3 separate regions of the Homo sapiens genome follow, and regions 1 and 3 are each linked to region 2. Evidence: fine-mapped expression QTL. A gene starts in region 2. Each other region holds a variant in brackets. All regions are shown on one strand. Distances are from middle to middle. Region 1 has its middle 69 kb from the start of LINC02987. Region 2 holds the start of LINC02987 (long intergenic non-protein coding RNA 2987). Region 3 has its middle 510 kb from the start of LINC02987.

What was found. PIP is the estimated chance that this variant, and not a neighbour inherited with it, causes the effect.
Region 1: its variant is fine-mapped to the expression of LINC02987 in whole blood (INTERVAL, PIP above 0.99).
Region 3: its variant is fine-mapped to the expression of LINC02987 in esophagus mucosa (GTEx, PIP above 0.99).

What each region holds. Positions count from the first base shown.
Region 1 is chr19:27,722,591-27,725,355 of GRCh38, reverse strand. No RefSeq gene overlaps it. Among named protein-coding and RNA genes, the nearest start is that of LINC02987, 69 kb to the left of the region's middle. The variant C/T (reference allele first, on the strand shown) is at 1,041.
Region 2 is chr19:27,792,271-27,795,035 of GRCh38, reverse strand. LINC02987 (long intergenic non-protein coding RNA 2987) reads right to left here and starts at 1,605. Exons shown (of 7, transcript NR_146733.1): 1 at 1,427-1,605. LINC00662 (long intergenic non-protein coding RNA 662) reads left to right here and starts at 1,096. Exons shown (of 3, transcript NR_027301.1): 1 at 1,096-1,504; 2 at 1,804-2,036. RefSeq lists an enhancer at 884-1,363.
Region 3 is chr19:27,286,512-27,289,276 of GRCh38, reverse strand. No RefSeq gene overlaps it. Among named protein-coding and RNA genes, the nearest start is that of LINC02987, 510 kb to the left of the region's middle. The variant G/C (reference allele first, on the strand shown) is at 1,308.

The DNA of each region.
Region 1 (2,765 bases), 70 kb after region 2:
CCCACTGAGGCCTGTAGAGAAAAACTGTATATCCTGCAATAAAAGCTAGAAGAAAAGCTCTCCGTGTAAATGGTTCCCGATGTGTGGGTTAATCTCACAGAGTTAAACATTTGTTTTTATTTAACAGGTTAGAAACGTTCTTTTTGTAGAATCTACGAAGGAATATTTCTGAGCCCATTGAGGCCTATAGCAAGAAGCCATATATCCGTCAATAAAAACTGGAAACAAGCTATCTGTGAACATTTTTTGTGATGTATGCATTTATCTCACCAAATGGAACCTGTGTTTTGATTCACCAGTTTGGAAACACTCTTTTGTGGAATGCATGAAGGGACATTTCTTAGCCAATTGAGGTGTATAGTGATATACCAAATATCCCGGGATAGAAACTAGAAACAAGTTATCTGCAAAAATGCTCTGTGATGTGTGGATTTATCTCACAGAGATGAAGCTTTGTTTTGATTCAACATGTTGGAAACACTTTTTTTGTAGAATCTACAAAGGGACATTTCTGAGACCATTAAAAACTACAGTAAAAAAAGGTATAATGCACCTTAAAATCTAGAAACAAAGCTATCTGTGAAAATGCTTTGCAATATGTGGATTCATGTCACAGATTTAAACCTTTGTTTTGATTGAACAAATTGGAAACACTGTTTTAGTAGATTATATAAAGGGACATTTCAAAGCCCATTGAAGCCTATAGTGAAAAATCAAAAATCCCGTGAGCAAAAATAGAAACAACCTCTGTGGGAAAATGCTGTGTGATACGTTCATTCATCTCACAGGGATAACCTTTGTTTTTATTCAACACCTTGGAAACATTCTTTTTGTAGAGTCTATGAAAAAAATTTCTGAGCCAATTGAAGTCTGTAGTGAAAAAGCTAATATCCCATTTTAAAATATAAAACAAACTATGAAAATGAGTTTTGATGTGTGGATTCATCGAGAGTTAGACCTTTGTTCTAAATCAACAGGTTAAGAACACTCTTTTTGTAGAATCTATGAAAAAACATTTCTGAGCCCGTTGAGGCCTATTG[C/T]GAAGTGAATCTCTTGCAATAAAAAGCAGAAACCAGCTCTCTGTGAAATAATTTTGTGATGTACAAATTTATCTTGCAGAGTTAAAACTTTGTTTTAATTCAACAAGTTGAAACCTTCTTTTTGTAGAATCTGCAAAGAGACATTTCTGAGCCCATTGAGGCCAATAGCAAAAAAATGAATATCCCACAATAAAAACTAGAAACAAAACAGCTGTGTAAATGCTTTGCAATATGTGGATTCGTCTCACTGAGTTAAACCTATGTTTTGATTCAACAAGTTAAAAAACTTGTTTTTGTAGTATCTTCGAAGGGACAATTCTGAGCCTATGGAGATTATAGCAAAAAACTGAATATCCTGCAATAAAAACTAGAAACAAGATATCCGTGGAAATGCTTTGAGATGTGTAGATTTATTTCACAGAATTAAACCTTTGTTTTGATTTAACAGGTTGGAACCACTCTATTTTAAGAATCTATGAAGAAATATCTTTGTCCCTATTGTACACTATAGTGGACAACTGAATACTTCATGACAAAAACTAGAAACAAGCTAGCTGTGAAAATGCTTTGCAATGGGTGAATTCATCTCACTCAGTTAAACCTTCGTTTTGATTCAACAAGGGTGAAACACTCTTTTGGTAGAATCTACAAAGAAACATTTATGAGCCCCTTGAGGACTATAGTGAAAAAATGAATCTCCTGCATTAATATCTAGAAACAATCTATTTGTGAAAATGCTGTGTGATGCATGGATCCATCTCACAGATTTCAAACTTTATTTTGATTCAACAGGCTGGAAACACTCTTGTTATAGAAGCTACGAAGGGTCATTTCTGAACCCATTGAGGCCAATAGTGAAAAACTAAATATCCTGCAATAAACCTAGAAAAAATCTATCTGCGAAAATACTTTGTGTAGTGTGGATGAGTGTCTCAGGGTTAAACATTTGTTTTTATTCACCAGGTTCGAAACACTCTTTTTGTTGAACAGACAAAGGGACATTTCTTAGCCCAGTTAGGCCTATAAAGGTAAACCGAATATCCCGTGATACATAGTAGAAACAAGCTATCTGCAAAAATGCTTTGTGAATTGTAGATTCATCTCACAGAATTAAGCCTTTGTTTTAATTCAACAGGTTAAAAACACTATTTTTGTAGACTCTACGAAGAAACATTTCTGAAACCATTGAAACCTATGGGGGAAAAAAACCCCCGAAATTCCTGTGATAAGAAATGGAAAGCAGCTATCTGTGAAAATGCTTTGTAATGTGTGGATTCTTCTCACAGAGTTAAACCTTTGTTCTGATTCAACATTGTTCAGAACACTCTTTTTGTAGAATCTACAGAGATACTTTTTAGCATTTTGAGGCCTCTAGTGAAAAACCGAATGTCCTGCAATAGAAACTGGAAACAACCTTCTGTGAAAATGCTTTGTGATTCGTCTATTCATCTCAAAGAATGAAACTTGTGCTTTGATTCAACAGGTTGGAAAACCCTTTTTGTAGAATCTACGTAGGAACATTTCTGAGCCCATTGAGGCCTCTAGTGAAAAAACTGAATATCCCAGAATTAAAACTATAAACAAGCTATCTGTGAAGAAGCTTTGTAATATGTGCATTCATCTAACAGATATAAGCGTGTATTTTGATTTGCCTGGTTGGGAACACTCTTTTTGTACAGTCTATAAAGAAACATTTCTGAGTGCATTGAGTCATATGTTGAAAAA
Region 2 (2,765 bases):
ACACATGCCTGGAAATTAGGGTTTTCTCCTCTGCTCTTAGCATCTCCTGGGTAAACCAATAATTACTCTCCCTCATGTCTCAAAATTCACATCTATCTAAAAGGCGCTAGTGAGGGTGACATTTCCAGGAAGCCATAGCCCATGTCACCCCCTGCAAAGCTGTGACCTTTTCCGCGGGCAGGCCAGGCGGCGGAGTTCTCCCAAAAGCGGATGAACTGGCACTCTGGCTGGAGAAAGCAGAGAGCAGCAGCACAATGGACAGCGTCTGGGACCTCAGGCCGATTCCACAGCAGCTTAGGAAAGCAGGAGGCCCCCTGGGCGGGAGGAGGCTTGATGCTCTGGAGGGAAACGGAACTGAGCAGCGGGAGGTGGGGTGAGCCTGAGACCCGACCGATTTTGGCAAAGGCGAGGCGCACTTTGCAGTATCATACTCTCCTCACTGCCCAGCCCAGACCTGCCCTTCAAGTCCCTCTATGGACTCACTCCCCTTAGCCAGGGGTGGCACAGATTCAGTAGCCAGCATGGGTTTGGAAACAGAGGTCAACACCGCCCTGCCCCTCCCTGCGGGGCTGCGCAACACCCTTGAACCCTGCGCATGCTGAGACTGTAGTCCCATAGCCCTGCGACCAACGGCCGGAAGCAGCTAAGACACTATTACCAGCATGCCCGGCAGGAGGGCACCGCGCTGCCCCCCCCCCTCAAGGGACCAGCATCATCCCCACTCCCGTAGCATACTGGGATTGTAGTCCCGCAGCTCTGCCACCAACAGCCAGAAGCAGTTAAAAAACTGTTCCTCTCAGCATGCCCTGCAAGGCGCGCACCGCTGCTGTACCTCCCTTAACGTATCCGTAACCTCCCTCAACGTATCCGTACCTCCCTCAACGTATCCATACCTCCCTCAAGGTATCCGTACCTTCCTCAAGCTATCCGCACCACCCTCTCTTCCATTTCATGCGAAGATTGTAGTCCCGCAGCCCTGCGACCAGCGGCCGGAAGCAGCTAAGATGCTACTGCTCCCAGCATGCCCCGCGAGGCGCGCACAGCACAGGCCCTCTCTCAAGGTCACCACCTCCACTCCCGTTGTATGCTGGGATTGTAGTCCGGCCGCCCTGTGACTAACGGCTGGAACCGCCTAAGACACCACCCCAGCCAGCATGGCCGGCAGGAGCGCACCGCGCTGTCTCCCTCCAGGGATCCGCACCGCCCTACAATCCTGCTTTGTGCTGAGATTGTAGTCCTGCAGGCGTACAACTAACAAGCTGGGTGCAGATAAGAGACTACAGCTCCCCGCATCCCAAGCAAAGGTCCCTCCTCTACGGAGCCCCTCCACGCGTCCACTGCGGTTCCGCCGTGCCAAGGGGAGCTTGGCTGTTCACGGGCCTCACCTGCTAGCGAGAAGATAGCTTGGCCGGGCGGCTGATCTCACCTTGTAATTCTGACACTGTGTCTCCCGGGCTTGTCGGCTTCATGACTTGTGCCCAAAGTTTGATTTCTCGCAGACCAGGTAAAAGCCAAGAGGCTCTCATAGGCGCCTTGGCAGAGTTGCCATTGGAACGGGCGTCCTCTAGTAGCTGGGATCTCCCCGCCCCTTCCTCCTGAGGGGCCACTCCTTTCTGCCCCACCCTTCTTATTGCCCCACCCTTTGCCACACTCCTTCAGAGATGCGCAGTGCTGCCCCTTTCTATGGGCAGGGCCGAAGGTCCGCGTGTAAAAGTACCCAGTCCCTGGTAACCTGACACTTCCCTTTTAAAAGCCACCTTTTGTCTATCTCTGGCCTGCCACGATTCTTCCTGTGCTCCATAGGAGGACCCATTGGACCCCCGGGCTGGCTGCAGGGCCCACACCTGGGTTAGACCTCGCACAGGGACGCTGCTGCCACTGTAATAAAGCGTGCCTACACGCTTCTGAAACTGGTGTAGGAACAACCTCAGTTCTGTGAAAGGCGGACGCAGCAGGACAGAATCTCCGTGGACATCTGTCTGGAGGAGCAATTTTACTGCGACATTTTAAAGAAACAAATTTAATTGATTTCCAAGGTAAGAAATTAAACCTTGAAAACTAAACTGAAAAGTCATCTGTGTTTGACAAGTCAGACTTTCTCCAAGAAGAAAACTAAGGAGTGCATATTTTCCATTATTATAAATAGTGAAAATGAGAAATCATAGCAACTCCCTGGAAAATCTTGCTCTGCCAGTTTTCTAAATCACAGTAGGGCCTCGATATGGTTTTATTTGTTTTTGTTTTTGTTTTGGAGTGTGTTCACCTTTTGAATATAAGAATTTGCGGTTTTGACCAAGTTTTTAAATTTTCAGCTATTGTTTATTTGTTTTTGTATTATATTTAATTTTTCTGTCTCTCCCTCTCTGTCTCAGACTCAATCATTTCACAGGTCTCTTAGGCCTCTTTTCATTTTCTTTAAACTTGTTTCAGTCTTCAGATTGGATGGTTTATATTGCTGTCTTCTGTTTCTACTCTGTAAACTAAAAGTTCTTTTTATTTTATTATTTTATTGTCTTCTATTTTACTCTTTTTATAATTTCCATGTCTCTGCTGAGACTCTACATGAGTTAATTCATTATGAGAATATTTTCCTTTACCCCCATGAACGTACTTATAATAGCTGCCCTGAAATACTTGTCTGCTGATTACATCATCTCGGACATCTTAGAAATAGCTTCTGCTGCCTGCTTTTTATCTTGTGTATAGTTTGCATGTTACATTTCTTCACACATTTTATGAATTTTAATATTGTGTAATAGAAATTA
Region 3 (2,765 bases), 510 kb after region 2:
CATAGCAAATAAGTTTCTCAGAATGTTTCTGTGTAGTTTTTATGTGAAGATATTTTGTTTTCCACCATGGGCATCAAGGTGCTCCAAATATCTACTTGCACATCCTGCAAATAGAGTGTTTCCAAACTACTCAATCAAAAGAAAGGTTCAACTACATCAGATGAATGCACGCATCACAAAGAAGTGACTCAGAATGCTTCTGCAGAGTTTTTATGTAAAGAAATTTCCTTTTCCGCCACAGGCCTCAAAACGCCCCAAATACACCCTTGCAGATTCTACAAAAAGAGTGTTTCAAAACTGCTCAATCAAAAGAAAAGTTCTATTCTCTGAGATGAATGCACACATTGCAAAGGAGTTTCTCAGAATGCTTTTGTCTTGTTTTTATGTGAAGATATTTCCTTTCCCACTATAGGTGGCAAAATTCTCCAAATATCCACTTGCAGATTCTATAAAAAGAGTGTTGCAAAACCGCTCAAATAAAAAAACAGTTCAGCACTCTGAGATGAATGCACACATAACAAAATAGTTTCTCAGAATGCTTCTGTCTAGTTTTTATGTGAAGGTATTCCTTTCTCCACTATAGGTCGCAAAGCATTCGAAATATCCACTTGCTGATTCTACAAAAAGAGTGTTTCAAAACTGCTCAATCAAAAGAAAGGTTCAACTCTGTGAGATGAATGTACACATCACAAAGAAAATTCTGAGAATGCTTCTGTCTACTTTTAAGTGAAGATATTTCCTTTTCCACTATAGGAAACAAAGGGCTCCAAATATCCACTTGCAGATTCTACAAAAAGAGTGTTTCAAAACTGCTCAAAAAAAGAAATGTTCAACTCTGTGAGATGAATGCACACATTACAAAGAAGTTTCCAAGAAATCTTCTGTCTAGTTTTTATGTGAAGATATTTCATTTTCCACCGTAGGTGTCAAAGATCTCCAATTATCCATTTGCAGATATTACAAAACTCTGTTTCCAAACTGCTCAAACAATAGAAAGTTTCAACTCAGTGGGTTGAATGTGCACATCACAAAGAAGTTTCTCAGAATCCTTCTGTCTAGTTTTTAAGTGAAGATATTCCCGTTTCCACCGAAGGCCTCAAAGCAGTCCAAATATCCACTGGCAGATTCTACAAAAAGAGTGTTTCAAAGCTGCTCTATCAAAAGGAAGGTTCAACTCTATGAGTTGAGTGCATATATCACAAAGAAGTTTCTGAGAACGCTTCTGTCTAGTTTTTATATGAAGCTATTTCCTTTTCTACCATAGGCCTCAAAGCGCTCCAAATATCCACTTGCAGATTCTACAAAAA[G/C]AGTGTTTCCAAACTGCTCTATTGAAAGTAACGTTCAACTCTCTGAGTTTAATGCACGCATCACAAAGTAGTTTCTGAGAATGTTTCTGTCAACTTTTTATGTGAAGATATTCCCATTTCCACCATAGGCCTCAAAGCGCTCTGAATATCCACTTACAGATTCTACAAAAAGATTTTCAAAATTGCTCTATCAAAAGGAAGGTTCAAAACTGTTAGTTGAATGCAAGCATCACAAAGCATTTCTGAGAATGCTTGTGTTTAGTTTTACGTAAAGATATTTGCTATTTTACCATAGGCCTCAAGGTGCTTCAAATATCCACTTGCAGATTCTACAAAAAGACTGTTTCAAAACTGCTCTATCAAAAGAAAGGTTCAACTCTGTGAGTTGAATCCACACATCACAAAGAAGTTTCTGAGAATGCTTCTGTCTAGTTTTTATGTGAAGATATTTCCTTTTCCGCAGTAGGCCTCAAAGCATTTCAAATATTCACTTGCAGATACTACAAAAACAGTGTTTCAAAACTGTTCTATCAAAAGGAAGGTTCAACTCTGTGAGTTGAATGCATACATCACAAAGAAGTTTCTGATAATGCTTCTCTCTAGTTTTTATATGAAGATACTTCCTTTTCAACCACAGGCCTCAAAACTCTCCAAATGTCCACTTGCAGATTCTACAAAAAGAGTGTTTCAAAACTGCTCTATCAAAAGGAAGGTACAACACTGTGAGTTCAATGCAAGCATCACAAAGAAGATTCTCAGAATGCTTCTGTCTAGTTTTTGTGTGAAGATAATTCCTTTTCCACCATAGGCCTCAAAGTGCTCCAAATATCCACCTGCAGATTTTACAAAAAGAGTGTTTCAAAACTACTCTACCAAAAGCAACGTTCAACTCTCTGCATTCAATGAACACATCACAAAGACGTTTTTTATAATGCTTCTGCTGTTTTTTATGTGAAGATATTCCCATTCCCACTGAAGGCCTCAAAGCACTCCAAACATCCGCTTTCAGATTCTACAAAAAGAGTGTTTCAAAACTGTTATATCAAAAGGAAGGTAAAACTCTGTGAGTTGAATGCACACGTCACAAAGAAGTTTGTGAGAATACTTCTGTCTAGTTTTATGTGAAGATGTTCCCATTTCCAACGAAGTCCTCAAAGGAGTCCAAATATCCACTTGCAGAAACTACAAAAAGAGTGTTTCAAAACTGCTCTATCAAAAAGGTTCAACTCTGTGAGCTGAATGCAAACATCACATAGTAGTGTCTGAGCATGCTTCTGTCTGGTTTTTATCTGAAGATATTCCCATTTCCACCAAAGGCCTCAAAGCGCTCCAAATAACCAATGGCAGATTCTAAAAAAAAGAGTGTTTCAAAACTGCTCTATCAAAAGAAAGGTTCACCTCTGTGAGTTGAATGTAAGCATCACAAAGGTGTTTTGGAGAATGCTTCTGTCTATTTTT